Linked DNA regions of Homo sapiens. The protein of the gene in region 1 purifies or fractionates together with the protein of each later gene. This does not show direct contact. Each region holds a gene or a part of one and is shown in the gene's direction. Other genes may lie near its edges.

Region 1 (3,500 bases):
GCCCAGCGGCCCTACCAGATGCCTCAGCTCCCTGTGGCAGTTCCCCAGCAAGGGCTCAGGCTACAGCCTGCCAAGGCCCAGATTGTGAGAAGTAACCAGCCCAGCCCAGCCGTCCATTCAAGCACCGTCATCCCCACAGGAGCCTATGGCCAAGTAGCCCATTCAATGGCCAGTAAATACCAGTCTTCACAAGGAGACATAGGAGTCAGCCAGAGCCGGTTGGTTTATCAAGGGTCAATTGGGGGAATCGTAGGGGATGGAAGGCCGGTGCAGCATGTCCAAGCCAGCCTGAGTGCAGGCGCCATCTGTCAGCATGGAGGATTGACCAAAGAGGATCTTCCACAGCGACCTTCCTCAGCATACCGAGGTGGCGTGAGATACAGCCAGACACCACAGATCGGACGCAGCCAGTCAGCATCCTATTACCCAGTCTGTCACTCAAAACTAGATCTGGAGCGCTCCTCCAGCCAACTAGGTTCCCCTGATGTGTCGCATTTAATCAGAAGACCTATCAGTGTCAACCCTAACGAAATCAAACCGCACCCGCCAACTCCCAGGCCGTTGCTGCATTCCCAAAGTGTAGGCCTTCGCTTCTCTCCATCTAGCAATAGTATCTCCTCCACCTCCAACCTAACTCCGACCTTCCGGCCATCTTCTTCCATCCAGCAAATGGAGATCCCACTGAAACCTGCATATGAGAGGTCATGTGACGAGCTGTCGCCAGTGTCTCCAACTCAAGGAGGTTACCCCAGTGAGCCCACCCGATCCAGGACCACACCATTCATGGGGATCATAGATAAAACAGCACGGACTCAGCAGTACCCCCACCTCCACCAGCAGAATCGGACCTGGGCAGTGTCATCTGTGGACACCGTCCTCAGTCCCACGTCTCCAGGCAACCTGCCTCAGCCTGAGTCCTTCAGTCCACCATCATCCATCAGCAACATTGCCTTTTATAACAAAACCAACAATGCACAGAATGGCCATTTGCTGGAGGACGATTATTACAGCCCCCATGGGATGCTGGCTAACGGGTCTCGTGGAGACCTCTTGGAGCGAGTCAGCCAGGCCTCCTCCTATCCCGACGTGAAGGTAGCTCGGACTCTACCTGTGGCTCAGGCATACCAGGACAACCTGTACAGGCAGCTGTCCCGAGACTCTCGGCAAGGGCAGACATCCCCTATCAAACCAAAGAGACCGTTCGTGGAGTCTAATGTTTAAAAGACGTTTTGTTGGAGTGAGACCCATATGTTTTCACTGCACATTTTCAGGCTTGGTTTCCACATTCGAGGTAGTTCTCTGGCTTAATTTCTCATGTAGTTTCTGTGTGGTGTTCAGAGGTGGCAGCCCACATGCTGAAATCCTTTGCATGCAGCCGACTGGGAAGCGGCCTCCCGGGAGCCAGGACTTCAGTTTCTCTTGTCTGTGCCCAGCCACATGCTCTCTCCCTCTCTTCAGATGCCAACGAGGAGATTTTCGTGCTGTGTGCTTTAACCCAGGGAGATCAGACACACTGGTCAGCTTTTTCCAGGAGACAATCGCTTTCACTGATGTTCTTGTTGTGTAATTGTCTTTTTCCTTTTTTAAAAAATAAGGTGTTCTTGTTCGTTTTCTTCTAGAAACTTTAGAAAGAGTGCGATGCCCCTTTGCCTTTGCATCCTTAGCCAGTGTCACCCACACAGCCAGCCGCAGCGCATTCTCATGCTGTGGCCCCTCCCCAGACCGCCAGCGCCCTGCAGCCACCAGGTCTGCAGTGTGCATTAGGATTATTGCTGGTCTTCCTAGGGGGTAAAAGGATCAGAGAGAGAAGAATTAAGTGCTAAATTGGAAGAAAACCCCAATATAATTATGTAAAATGTCACTACATTGATTTTCCAAGAGGCATTGTAGGAACATGTCAAAAACAGCCAGCCCTTTAAATATTGCAGTCAGCCAAGGAAATTAGATGAGAATTGTGGCTATTAAGAGAATTCACTGAGAGTTATTCTCTAGATTTTTAGCCGACAATTAACCACTAAAAGCTGCTGCTTTTCCAGGGTGGGGGAGGGAATGAATACATAGAAAAACAAAAAAGATTGTTCTGGATTCTCAGTGAAAGGCTATAGGAAGTCTGTTCTGGAGACATCTACTTTTTAGATCCTGATACATCACTGAGTGTCATACTCCACTAAAAGGAAACTCTAACCGAAGGCTGGCTGGTGTGACAATCCCGTTAGTTGGATCTTCACCTACAGCCAGATTTTGTTCTAGTGGCCCTCTTCCTGTAAACCCAGATGGTGTCATACAGAAATTGTTTCTTTCAGAAGCAGATTGGAATCTCTTGGGACCATGAGACTGAGTCCCAATATTTCCACCCAGGGTCATGCCCGTTGTTGTCTACTTCCATTTTGAGATCTATAGTTTGATTATCTATTATTACAGGAACTGTTTCTTTTCTTTTTCTAGGAGTGTTTATGAGAGTGTGATATTTTAAAGTCAGACGCAGCAAAAACTGTTTCAGGGTGAAGAAAGACCCCTTTCAGCCCTGTTTTGCAGCCCTGGGTGGGGGCATGAGATAGACAGCAAGCTTCTGATCTTGAAGCTTGTCTAGAAGACACATCTTCTAGGTCTCGTGGTCATTTGGTAGGCTGACCTTTGAGTGAGCGAGGCCACTATTGAGTGGATAGCAAGAACATTGGAACCAAAGCCTCGGCACAGGCCTGGCACTGGCTGTACATCAGCTCTTACAACTAAACAACTCAACTAAGCAACTGAAACGAAACAAAGGAGCATTCGTTCTCTGTTGTTAGGAATCATTCTGCTCTGTTAGGGAAGGGCTGCAGGAAGGGCAGTTTCCTGAATAAAAATCTGGCTGCGACCAGTCCCATGTGTCTGGTAAGTAAGTAAGTAAGTAAGTGCCCTTTGAAGGGATCATTAAGACACAGGGAGCATGAACCTGAGATCAGAAGCATTTCTTTACTAATTTAGATTCTGCGAAATAGACGGACCTCTCCACCCCCAAACCTAAAACAGGCCAGGACTTGTCTCTGTGCTGAAAGCAAATAGCAAGACTAACTCAAGCCCCAGCCTCTTTCCACACTCCCTGATACCTAAGGACTGCTTTCTCAGCTAGACCAGGGTGGGCATCAGCGACGCCTTCTCAGCTAGACCAGGGTAGGCATCAGCGTCCTCTCTCCATCTCTATACCCCTCTCTCTCACATCAGGAAGATGAAATGTGTAGCTCTAGCGGCAACCTCTAGCCAGGAGCCCAGTGGCCTCTCAGATTGCTTTTTGGCCAGGTCTCAGCACTGCTGGCATCTTTACATCTTACTCCTTAAAACCGCCTCTCGCTGAGGAGCCACTGCATTTTGAAGAATTTCTCAGTGTCTGTCAGGAAAGTGCTCCTGCTCATTTGGAACGCCACACACCACCCGCACTCACCTGTCCAGGCGAATGAGCAGGTCCTGTAGCTTTACAAATATGCCGCTGATGCCGCTTCTCCCCAGGGTCTCTCAGTTTT
Region 2 (3,500 bases), on another chromosome or scaffold:
TGAGTACCTGCAGTATACTGATCAATATGCTAAGTAGAGGGATACAGATGAAGTATATGGCAGCCCTCACATTTAAGGAATTTATAGCTGTATTGGGTAGCCAAGATCTAATAGGCAAAAAATAAAGAATAATGGAAGAACTTTTTTTAAAGGCTCTTTGAAAGCAAGAAGTATGCCTTATTTGTCTGTCACTCCAGGTATCTAGTACAATAATAGGCCCTCAATAAAGATTTATTAAGCTCTCTATAAAAGTAAATGCCATTTATAGTAGACTCAGTAAGAATTTGCCAAATGAAAAAAATGTTCATAAGTGTATGGTAGAGTCTGTCAATGGTGAAAAACAAGTGCTGGATGAGCATGGCAACACATGCCGAGGGGGTAGGACTTGTGTCTGGTGTCGAGGAGGCAGGACAGAAGGTGAGAGCAGTGCTAGCAGAGGCACAATGCCAGGAATAAACATGTGTTTTGCTTGGTGCTGTGAAGGCAGCTGTCTGAGTAAAGCACAGTATTTCTGCTGAGACATTCTGAGACACAGTTAACTAGGTACATTGGAACATGGGAACCATATATTGGAGGTTAGGAAAAGTTCAAGGTTAGTCCGCATTAGGATTCCTTTGTAGATTGTTTAGAAAGACAAAAGTAAGAACAGTTGATCTAACCCCACTGTATTAATGATAGATTTCCAGAGAAGAATTCAAACTGGCTGGTTTTATCCTTTTTTTAAGCCACTGAATAATGTGAAGAAAACTGAACCCTTGAAATATGCCCATGTGCACATAAATGCATAATAAGCATTTTGTTTGAAGTGTCAGAGGGTTTGTGGAATCTTCCCACCTTTTGAAGCTCATCCTTGGACCCCTAGTTAAGAACCCTTGATCCAGAAGCAAAAAAAACAGTTAAAGGGCTCTTGTAATTAATTGAAGAGAATCTAAATTAAAAACAGAGGCAGGGAAGTTAGAGTAAAAGATAGCATATTCCAATTGTGTGCATTTCAAAGGAAGAAACTTGGTGACAGGTTAAATATAAAGAAGCCCTACAGGATTTTAATGTTGAGGAGCTTAGGTGAATGAATGACGATGTTATCTGTAATAGGGGGAGATGGGAAAGGATAGCATAGAATTGCTGATCTTTCATGTCTACATTGACCCGTAATTTGGGATACTTGCTGTTTGTCATTTACTCTTTGCCATCTTCCAGAAAGCAAAGAAGTAGGTCTGGAGGAGATGGCCATTGTATAGATTTTGCTTTGTACAATTATATTTATAAAGCTGAGTCAGGCACTAGCAATCAAGTATATTTGCAGGTATGTTAAATTTGCTGTGAAACTTGAAATTCATGGGGTTTTTTCAGGTTTTAGAGCAATCTTGGCTGAACCTAAAAATAAAGCATCTGAATCCTCTGAACAAGATTATTATAGTAATATGAGGCAAGAAGCTTTGGGACATGAACCTAGAGTAAATATGTTTCCATTTGGTAAGTAGGCAACCTTTACTTTTAATAGTATAATGTAGTATATGCAATCTAATTTGGGTTTTAAAGAATACTCTGTTATTGGGCATCTATAAATTTCACCTAGTGAATAAAAATCTTAAATGTAGTTTTTTTATTCCTAAAATGTGGATTATGACTCCTAAAGTTCTTAATATTTAACACTTATTTTGTTTAACTGATTTCTAATTATAGTTTTCTCTGTTAAGTTACGCATTCCTCATATTAGAAACTATTACCACTGCCACTTTTTTGGGTGAGCTTCTGCCTCTATATAGCTGACCAAAAACTTAAAAAGACATATGTAGAGATCCTCTCCGTATGAGTCCTAAAATTTTGTTCCAGAACTACTGCTACTTTAAAATTAGGGCTACAGAAAGGAGAGGAATGGTAAAAGTAGAAGCTCTAATAGAAAAAGGGGAAAATGGGTAATGAAAGTAAGGCCTGTGAATGTTATTTGACGTAAACATTCAGGTAAAATACTTACCATATTTTTCAGTTTTGCATACTAAACTTCTTTCTGTGAAATTAGACTATGCATTTCTTCTTATATTTCTGCATTAAAGGTAGGGGAGTGGGGAGAGTTGTCTCTTCTTGTCATTAGTCCCATCGGTAGTTCTGATGACCAGAAGCGTACTACAAAATACAGTGCCTTTATTCAGTACAATGGACTCTGTTTTCTAGTATTTAAAATGTTAAGCGAATTGTTGGCTGTGTAGAAATCTAAAGATTTACTTTTTTTTATATTGTCGGAGAACAACAATCTGAATTTTCAAGTTTTGACAAGAATGATAGCCGAGGCCAGGAAGCAATCTCCAAACGCTTGTCAGTTGTATCAAGAGTTCCTTTCACTGAAGAACAGCTTTTCAGCATTTTTGATATAGTACCAGGATTGGAATATTGTGAAGTTCAACGAGATCCTTATTCAAATTATGGTAAAATAATGTTCACATTAAAAAATATATATATATGTATATATACACACACACACACACACACACACACACACACACACACACAGAGTTTTGTTAAAATGGCTTTTCTCTAGTGGCACTTTTATGTCAAGTACTGCTCATGTGACAGGAATTTTATCTTTCCTTTTTCTCTACTTTAGAATTCAAAATATGGTGATACCTTAATAAACAAAGCCCTGGAAATATATCTTCTTTTTACAAAATTGTTCACTGTAAAATATATTTTAACTCCCACAAAATATAACATTCTGTATTCCAGTTGCATAACAAAAAATACCTCTGGATAGAGCCTCTGTTTCTATGTACTCTTTTGGTTAATGCTAGACAAAGTTACGAAACTCACAAAATTTCCTCCTCATTCATCCCTAGATCTCTTTCTCTTAAATTTATACCCCTCCTTCCTTTCATTCCAAGCATCTAAATGCCCTGCTTCTCTCCTGCTTCTTCCAATTCTCAATGGAAGCAAGTCTCCAATATCAGCCATTTGAACTTATTAATTAGTTAATTGATTAAACCCATTATCTAACATTAGCTAACCCATCTTTGTGTTTTAAGCTTTTGATTTTATTAAGGCTCTTTGTTAATGGAGGCATTGTGGCATAATGGGAAAGTCTGGCATTCCATTTTGCATAGAATCGGGTACAAATCCCAGCAGTGACATGTAGCTTTGAGACCTTGGCAACTTGCTTATCCCCTCTGAGCCTCTCTTTCCTCGTATGTAAAATGGGATCATTGATACCTTCTTTGCCAGGGTTAGGTAAGAATTAGAGATAATATATGTAAAATAACTTAATGCAAGTTCTGGCATGTAATAGGGCACTCAGTAAATCTAAGGGGTTTTTTTTTCTTTGTTAGTGAGGGGTGGTAGAGAGAAATCATACTTGGTTGGCATCTCTTCCAGTTTTGTAAGGATACCTGATTTAGTCCTTTTAGAGTGGCATGGCTATTGACATAGAAGTAGTGACGTGAGTTTGGTCATGTGGACCAACAGGACTAAGGTAACTCCACCCTTCATACAGACACCCCCACATACTCACT
Region 3 (3,500 bases), on another chromosome or scaffold:
GCACACCACCATGCCTGGCTCACTTTTGTATTTTCAATAGAGACAAGGTTTCGCCATGTCGGCCAGGCTGGTCTCAAACTCCTGACCTCAGGTGATCCGCCCACCTCGGCCTCCCAAAATGCTGGGATTACAGGTGTGAGCCACTGTGCCCGGTCAAATTTCTCTGCTTTAGAAACTTGCCTGTCATTGGCTTATGATTGTATTTCTGGAGGATTCGCCATGTCTTAGGTTATGTGTAGAACATATAATAGACCTGCTTTTTCTGCAGGGAAGATGGTTGAGGATATGTCTGAGAATATATAACAACATGAGTGATTGAAAGTCAGGAAAGCTAAGTTTATGCCAAATTGTCTTTAAAGTATTAGGTGGTATAGTTAAGATGACAGACAACATTACCATATAGAACAACATTTGAAGTTTATTATGTTGTAACTCTCGATCATGTATCTTTTTTAAAAATGTGTTTAGATCCGATGCAGTCCATATTAAACAGCTTAGAACAACAGCATGAAGAAGAAAAACGATCTGCACTGGAGCGCCAGAGGCTTATGTATGAGCACGAATTGGAGCAGCTCCGGAGAAGGCTGTCTCCTGAGAAGCAGAACTGCCGGAGCATGGACAGGTTTTCTTTCCACTCGCCCAGCGCTCAGCAACGCTTAAGACAGTGGGCTGAGGAGAGGTAGGCGGCACAGAGGGGCCTGTTAACTTTATAGCTCAGGCTTGCCACCTCTAACACACCTAGGGAAAGTGTCAAATGGGAACATTAAGATGGTGCTTACAAAAGAATTATGTTAAAAGATAAGTGTTAACAGCCAAGAACCACTTTGCATTTGTTTTTAAAAGGGGAATTGCCCATTTATATTGCATTATTTAAAACTGTTGGTGTTAGGTGTTGCTCCATTTTCAGTTGGTATGGCTTTTGGATTTGGATATAGAAGTACACTTGATCATTGTATTATGCTTTAGGTTCTGAAGCTTGGGTAGATGATTTTTAGAAAAACAAAGTTGGTTATCTGGACTGATTAGCTCAGGTAGGTAAAGCATGGTGCTGATGAGATGCAGATTGCAAATTTGATCTCTGTATGGGCTAATTAGCATTGCATTGAAATGCCTTATCCCATGGTTGCAGACTGTACTTCACTAACCTCATACTATTTAAAGTTTGGTCTGCAGGCAGGCAGCTTCCCTTTTACCTGGAGATTGATAGAAATGTAGGATTTCAGGCCTCCACCTCAGACCTGCTGAGACAGAATCTTGAGTTGATGAAGATCCCCTGGTGATCTGCATACAGGGGCACTGCTGTTATCTACAGCCGGCTTGCTGTGTGGCTGCTTTCCAGTGCTTATCGTGTAGTTGAGGTTCAAGCGTGTGCATGGGTCAGTGTCAGCAACACAGTCCCTGCGTGCAGACGACCACGGAAAAAGCTCAATTCACACTTTGGCAATGATGTACTACCACTGTATGATTTTCTGACTAGCTGCTTTGTGTTAATCTCTTCCCTACCTCTGCCGCTTCTTTATTTTTTTTTAGAGAAGCAACGTTGAATAACAGCCTGATGAGGCTGAGGGAACAAATTGTTAAGGCCAATCTATTGGTGAGAGAAGCTAATTACATTGCTGAGGAGCTGGATAAAAGAACAGAATACAAAGTTACCCTACAGATTCCAGCCTCCAGCCTGGATGCCAACAGGAAGGTGAGGTTGCCGTTCCTTGAAAAAAACAAAGATCTCATTGGATAAGATCGCCTGATATTTCCTGGTGTTATTTAAGCTTCAGATCCCTGTCTGTGCCTGCCCCAAGTCCAGATCCTTTGTCCTCCATGCTTTTGGGTAGAATTGACTTCCTTTTCCATTCTCTACCTTTGAGTGTATGTATATTTTATCTGCTAGGGGAATATACTCTGCATCTCACCTGGCCCTGACAGTTCATTTCACTCAACTTTCTTCCTTCAAATCTGTTTAAATTCTTTCTTAGAAGTCTTTTCTGATTAATCTTCCCCGAATGTCTTTTTTTCCTTCCTTATGCTACCACTCTACAACCCCTTCTCCACAAGTTAGGTGTTCATTTTGCTTATGTTATTTTCTACTTGGAATAGCTTGCTCTGTAAAACTGCTCATTAGTTGTGTCATGGTGTCATGTATATATTCAGGATCATACTTTTTTTGGTATAATAAATTTAATAAAATGTAGGGGGAAAGTCCCATCACAATCTTCTATCTTTGCCATTCAGTTGGGTTTTTTTCCTTCATCTTTTTTTTTTTTTTTTGAGGTTCTTTTCTAGCTCTTGATCACATTCATACATAATTTTTGATGGATTAGGTAGAATTTTCTATTCAGATGAATTTTTTGTGGATCCGTGTGTTCTGTTTAGCCTGCGGTAGTCAACACAGCAAAACTTTAATCAATCCATCTTGGATATTCTATTTTTCTTTTTTTTGTTTGAGAGGGAGTCTTACTCTGTCACCCAGGCTGGAATGCAGTGGTGTGATCCTGGGTCACTGCAGCATCTGCCTCCTGGGTTCAAGCGATTCTCCTGCCTCAGCCTCCTCAGTATCTGGGATTACAGGTGTGTGCCACCACGCTGGACTAATTTTTGTATTTTTAGTAGAGATGGGGTTTTGCTGTGTTGGCCAGGCTGGTCTCAAACTCCTGACCTCAAGTGATCCACCTGCTTTGGCCTCCCAAAGTGCTGGGATTACAGGCGGATATTATTCTAATTTGATAGCAAGGATTACATCTTTCCCTATGACATCATAGCATCAAGGTCAGCGTTTTGTACAGGGTTAGATATTTGGCAAATATGATTCTTAGTATTTTGAGAAAGGTATTGTAAATATGATATGATCGTTACTTTACAGATCATTGTTTTTGTATACTCTGTGTGTATTTTGAAAATTTTTACTTAATTAGAACACTAGTATTTGTAGGGCAAAGTCTGGGTACAGTAGGACTCACCAAAAACCGAAGAGGAAGGCCAGTCACAAGGAGAAGGTTCAGGGCCTAGTTTCTCCTTGAAGGCTGAGAAGTACAAGATCCTCTTTGATTTTATAGTGTATAAGTTGAAAAAAGCAGAAACCTGAAAGATTTTTCCCCAGTAAGCATGACCGCAGCCCTTTTCTCCGTAACCTCTTTTGGGCTTTGTTGAAAGGTGTGGCTCTGCACTGGGGCAGCCATGTCAACGCCTGGAAGAACTCATGTCGCCTGGCATCTCTCCTTAGTTAGGCTGACTCTGTAGTCTTTCGTGCAACAGACTATTTTTTGGTATTTGAAAAGTTGTTTAAAGTCCTGTCCATTCTGTGAACTCTTCTCTGGTGAATTTTTTTCTTATTTCCAGTTTTGCAAGAGGGCTAAGTTATGGTAGCTGCACCATATTGCCCGTTGCTATTATAGTCCCAGGTCCAGCATTCTCCCCCAGGAAAGCCACTACCCACACAGGTCACAAATGGGATTTTTGTATTTATTCACTGGCTGGCTGAATATAAGGTAGGAGGGCCTTTAATT
Region 4 (4,300 bases), on another chromosome or scaffold:
ATCTCTTAGTAACACTTTAAGAAGACTAAACATTTACCCAACTCAATAACTGGAAGGGGTTTTTCCTCCAAGTGCTAATTCATTTAGTTGTTGTTTATTTGGGACTTGAAGCAACTAACATCTATGCGAAAACTTTCTGTATACATAATGCACTTCCCTCCTTTTTACCAATCATCTTCCTTTTTCTTTTCTTTTTTGGACTCTTGTCATTTGAAATATTGGGTGGGGGGGAACGCTTTTTTTCTTCTTTTGATTGCTCTACTTCTTCTAGTGATTTCGTCATGATTCAAGACTTTCTTTGAAAGTAAAATGGAATAAAAATGAAACACTACGAACTTTGTTGCCTATCCTCGCTGTTTTTCTTTTTGACTTAACTTTGCGTTGGGGTGCTTTAAAGTAACCCTATTTGAGAGAAGGAGGTTGAAGGGCATTCTAGCGTCCCCAACTAGAGTAAAAGGGCTATGACAGAAGGCAATCAAAGGAGGAAATAATTAGCAATCTTCAACGTTCAAGATTAATCAGTTCTGTTTAGCGGTTATTAAAGGGAAGAAAGAAACCAAATGGGAATAGTGAATTATTGGTCCTTTCATGTTTTACACTTAATGCTGGTACATAGTATTCTTTCCACATTCTACTGCACATTGCCTAGAGAAAGAACTGCAGATCATCAAATAATTATCCATTTCCAAATGGTCTAATGACAGCAGATACAAAGGCGGCTCACTTAAAACCTTCCGTTAACAGTCACACTGCATCAAATGGTGCTAGCTTTAAGTAGGCCACCCATTTAGTAGACTCTGAAACAACACCTTTCCGCCCAATTTCTGTCATTTGCTCCTTAAGTCAAGGGTAGTACCCTGCGTAACATCTTACAAAGGCCTACTTCTAACACTTCCCGAATCTTAATGTGTGAGGATGTTGATCACCATAATTTATGACCTTATCTAAGACAGTGGGGTGACTCTCCACATTGGGAGCCCCCTCATTTGTCCTCAGTGACTTCTAAAAACACCGCTGGCGTGGGCTGGATATTTGATCTTGGGGCCAAGTGCTTCCAGACTTTGTTCTCTGGCCTTAAAGGTGAAGAGCCCGGCGCTGAAGGCCACAGACATCACGGCGGATTTCACAGAGGGCCGCGTTCCGGGAGCGGGTGGCCAGGCGGTGGCGGACGCCCCACCTGTCCATCCTCCTACCCCTTCCCCCCCCCGTTGTTTGGCCGGTGGGAGCCCCTCCTTTCAGCAGGCGCCGGGCGGTGGGGTTGCGGATGGCTGCGCGCGCTGCGGGCACCGATCACCGGCGGCAGTTGGGCTCCGCGGGGCCGAAAAGCTGCGGGCGGGAAGCGCGAGGTTAAGACCCTGACGGCTGCAGCTCTCAGAGCCCCCGCGAGCGCGCTCCGTTGGTGCGCGCGCGCGCGCGGCTCCGCCCCGCCCGCTTGGCGCGCGCCCCCGCCAGGTCCGCTCTCGTCCCCCACCCCTGGCGCGGACGGGGTGGTTCCAGCTCACTCTCCTCCCCCGAGCGGCAGCGGCGGCGGCGGCGGCGGCTGCTGCGGGCGCTGAATGAGAGACGGTGACTGTTCGGGTCGACGAGTGCTACTCTAGGCGGCGGCGGCCGTGGCGGTGAAGCGTGAGGCCGGCATCGTCTTTCCGTCCTCTGAGGCGACGGCCGCGGCTGCACAGGTCGGTGGGCTCAGGCCGCGGGGCGGTGCGGGGGAGGGAGGGAGGGAGGGTGGGTACGCGGCGCCCCCCGGGCGGCGCGGGGAATGGCGGCGGCGGCGCTGCGGAGTGTGGCTCTCCCGGCCGCGGGCCCCGGGGCTGCTCGCCCTGCGCGCAGGGAGGGGGCTGCGGAGCTGGGGCTGAGGCTGAGGGAGAAGGGCGCTGGGCGGCGCGCCTCCCTCGGCCGCGGGTTCTCAGAGTCGGAGCGGCCGTGGGGTCCCCGCTCGGGGGCGCCGTCCTGAAGCCGGGGGCGCTGCGACCCCTTGAACCCGCCTCGCTCTCCCTCTTGGGTGGCGGAAGCCCCCAGCCTCCGCCCGCTCTGTTCTGGCGCCCAGCGGCGCCTCAGTCTTCCTTCAGGTGAGCCCGATCCCGGACCTCGGAGCCAGGACCAGCAGAAGCCGGGCCACACCCCCTCCCCTGGCCCTGGCGGCTGCGCCCAGAAGCCTGGCCGCAGAGTTGGCCGCCCGCGAACCCGCGGAGTCGCGGTCAGGGTGACCTGTTGCAGAGCGGCCCGCAGCCCGAGCGGCCCCCGCCAGCCCCGGCCCCGGAGGGGCTGCGTCCTGTGCTGGCCTCGGGCCGGGCGCGCGGGCCGGGTGTGGGGCAGGGGCCGCAGCCCCAGGTCGGCTTGCTCTACGGCCTGGAACCGGGCTCTAGAAAAAAAAGGAGATTCCGAACGTATCTCATCAAACACTTGCAAAGCCGGGAGATCTGTCTGCAAATATCCGGAATTCCATTGCAGTATCGGATTAGGTAGGCTCATAAACACCGTGCTTTTGAGGTGATTTGGAAGAAACGCGAGCCACGAGCGAGGAACTAGTTTCTGGAAAATAGCCGTAAACCTGTGCGGAGCGAATTATTAACCCCCCGCCCCAGCTCCCCCCTCGAAGCTCTTTTCCTGTAGCTGTGTGTTGTGTAGACGCAAGCCAGTTTCAGTGTACGTGGGCGTGTTTGGGAAGAAGCTGCGAGCTGATAGGAGGTACCTAGTACAAATGTTAATTTGTTTGAGTTGGGAGGGGTAAGGGAGGAGGAAGAAAGGGCACTGATGTTAGCTGTGGAGGAGGGGCAATTGAAATACTAAATTTCTGTTAAAAAAAAAAAACCCCAAAAGAAATATCTAATGCCTACTGTGTATTTAAGACCATAAAGTGGAATCACACAAGCAGCAGTTAATTGAGCTTTATCGTTTATGCTCCCTGGATTTTTTTTCCCCAACACTTTAGTTGCTATAGAGAGCCTTTTCTTACCAGTGTTCATGAGTTGACTTGGGTATTTTTCTGTGTCCACCATTAGATCGATTCCTGTTCAAGTTTCTTTGAAGATGACCATCAGAATTTTAGGAAACTTTTCAGCCCGTGTTTGCAGAGTATCGCTGTTAGACAGATCATAGCTTGCTCATTATAAAGCCTGTTCCACTCAAGATCATTATGCTTGTACAAGTGCTATAGAACAAGTGCTATAGAATCATACACATAAGTGTATTACTCTTACGGCTAAATATCTTAATTTAGAATTATGAGGAAACTTCCAAAACTGAGCATCCAAACAGTATTATTTTAACAAAGATAACCTCTAACTCAAGCTTTGTAGGCATGAAGTTTATCATGTAGCTTCAAAGGTCTTTTGAGGCAGATCTAAATATCAAAATGTAAGGGCATTAATGCCATTTGGGATAAACAATTTCAGTGTATTTATTTTAAGCGTAGTTCATTTTTTCTTTTTAAAATTCAGCATAATTTTTGAACGGTAAGATGTGCGTTTTTCCCATTATATTCCACTTTTTTTTTTTTCCTTTTAAGATAGGTTCTCCTTATTTGGCTCAGGCTGGTCTCAGACTCCTGAGCTCAAGCGATCCTCCCGTGTCAGGCTCCCAAGAAGCTGGGACTACAGGCATGCGCCACTGTGCGTTATTTCACTTTTCATTGAATTAAGGAATTTGACTTTTAGTAATACTTTGGGGCAGGACTCTGGAAATACTGTTTAGTTTGCCTAAATTTTTTCAGATTGCAACGTAAGTTTGAAGATAATGCTTGCATTGGCAGAACACAACGTGCTTTTCTAATATTTATTAGTAATACTAGAAAGAATACAACAAATTTTCCTGAGAGAAAACATAACTGAAAAACTGGCTTTGTGAGTCAGATACATATGTGAGTAATATATTTTTGTGTGTGTTTTTAAATACCTGGTACGAGTCTTTTTATTACGTCATTAGAGTTCAGTGTAGTGAATGATGGATATATAGGTGAAATTGTCCTGTTGCAACTTAAAACACTTAAGCTTTTTCCAGAGACTCAGTTCATTCTGCACATGTGTATTGGGTACCTACTTGGTGCCAGTTAGTTCCCTAGAGGTTGGGGACACAACAGGGGAGACACAACAGGGCTTATCATTTAAGCCCTGATGGGGCTTAAATGATAAGTGGGCAAATATGTTTGTTTAAAAGTTTAAGAAGTAGAAACTCCTCTGATAACTTTTTGGTTAAGGATATTGTTTTTTTCTTTCTGAGAATTGTGGGAATTATTGCCTAGCGAACAAAAACATTAAGACAATTGTTTTTAGAATATGCCTATGTTTATATACTTTGGGTT

Evidence for each region.
Region 2: the proteins of TANC2 (region 1) and RBM45 purify together in Homo sapiens (affinity purification with mass spectrometry; one large-scale study listed by BioGRID and IntAct). This does not show direct contact.
Region 3: the proteins of TANC2 (region 1) and KIF13B purify together in Homo sapiens (affinity purification with mass spectrometry, with the first as the bait; one large-scale study listed by BioGRID). This does not show direct contact.
Region 4: the proteins of TANC2 (region 1) and RALGPS2 purify together in Homo sapiens (affinity purification with mass spectrometry, with the first as the bait; one large-scale study listed by BioGRID). This does not show direct contact.

Annotation. Positions count from the first base shown.
Region 1 is NC_000017.11:63,420,735-63,424,234, forward strand, and holds part of TANC2 (protein TANC2), read left to right. Parts: coding exon 1-1,221; 3' UTR 1,222-3,500. UniProt on the Homo sapiens protein: Scaffolding protein in the dendritic spines which acts as immobile postsynaptic posts able to recruit KIF1A-driven dense core vesicles to dendritic spines.
Region 2 is NC_000002.12:178,118,937-178,122,436, forward strand, and holds part of RBM45 (RNA-binding protein 45), read left to right. Parts: intron 1-1,350; coding exon 1,351-1,473; intron 1,474-2,237; coding exon of another isoform or gene 2,238-2,243; coding exon 2,244-2,423; intron 2,424-3,500. UniProt on the Homo sapiens protein: RNA-binding protein with binding specificity for poly(C). May play an important role in neural development.
Region 3 is NC_000008.11:29,144,571-29,148,070, reverse strand, and holds part of KIF13B (kinesin-like protein KIF13B), read left to right. Parts: intron 1-468; coding exon 469-679; intron 680-1,530; coding exon 1,531-1,693; intron 1,694-3,500. UniProt on the Homo sapiens protein: Involved in reorganization of the cortical cytoskeleton. Regulates axon formation by promoting the formation of extra axons. May be functionally important for the intracellular trafficking of MAGUKs and associated protein complexes.
Region 4 is NC_000001.11:178,723,744-178,728,043, forward strand, and holds the start of RALGPS2 (ras-specific guanine nucleotide-releasing factor RalGPS2), read left to right. Parts: upstream 1-1,500; 5' UTR 1,501-1,676; exon of another isoform or gene 1,677-2,541; intron 2,542-3,002; exon of another isoform or gene 3,003-4,300. UniProt on the Homo sapiens protein: Guanine nucleotide exchange factor for the small GTPase RALA. May be involved in cytoskeletal organization. May also be involved in the stimulation of transcription in a Ras-independent fashion.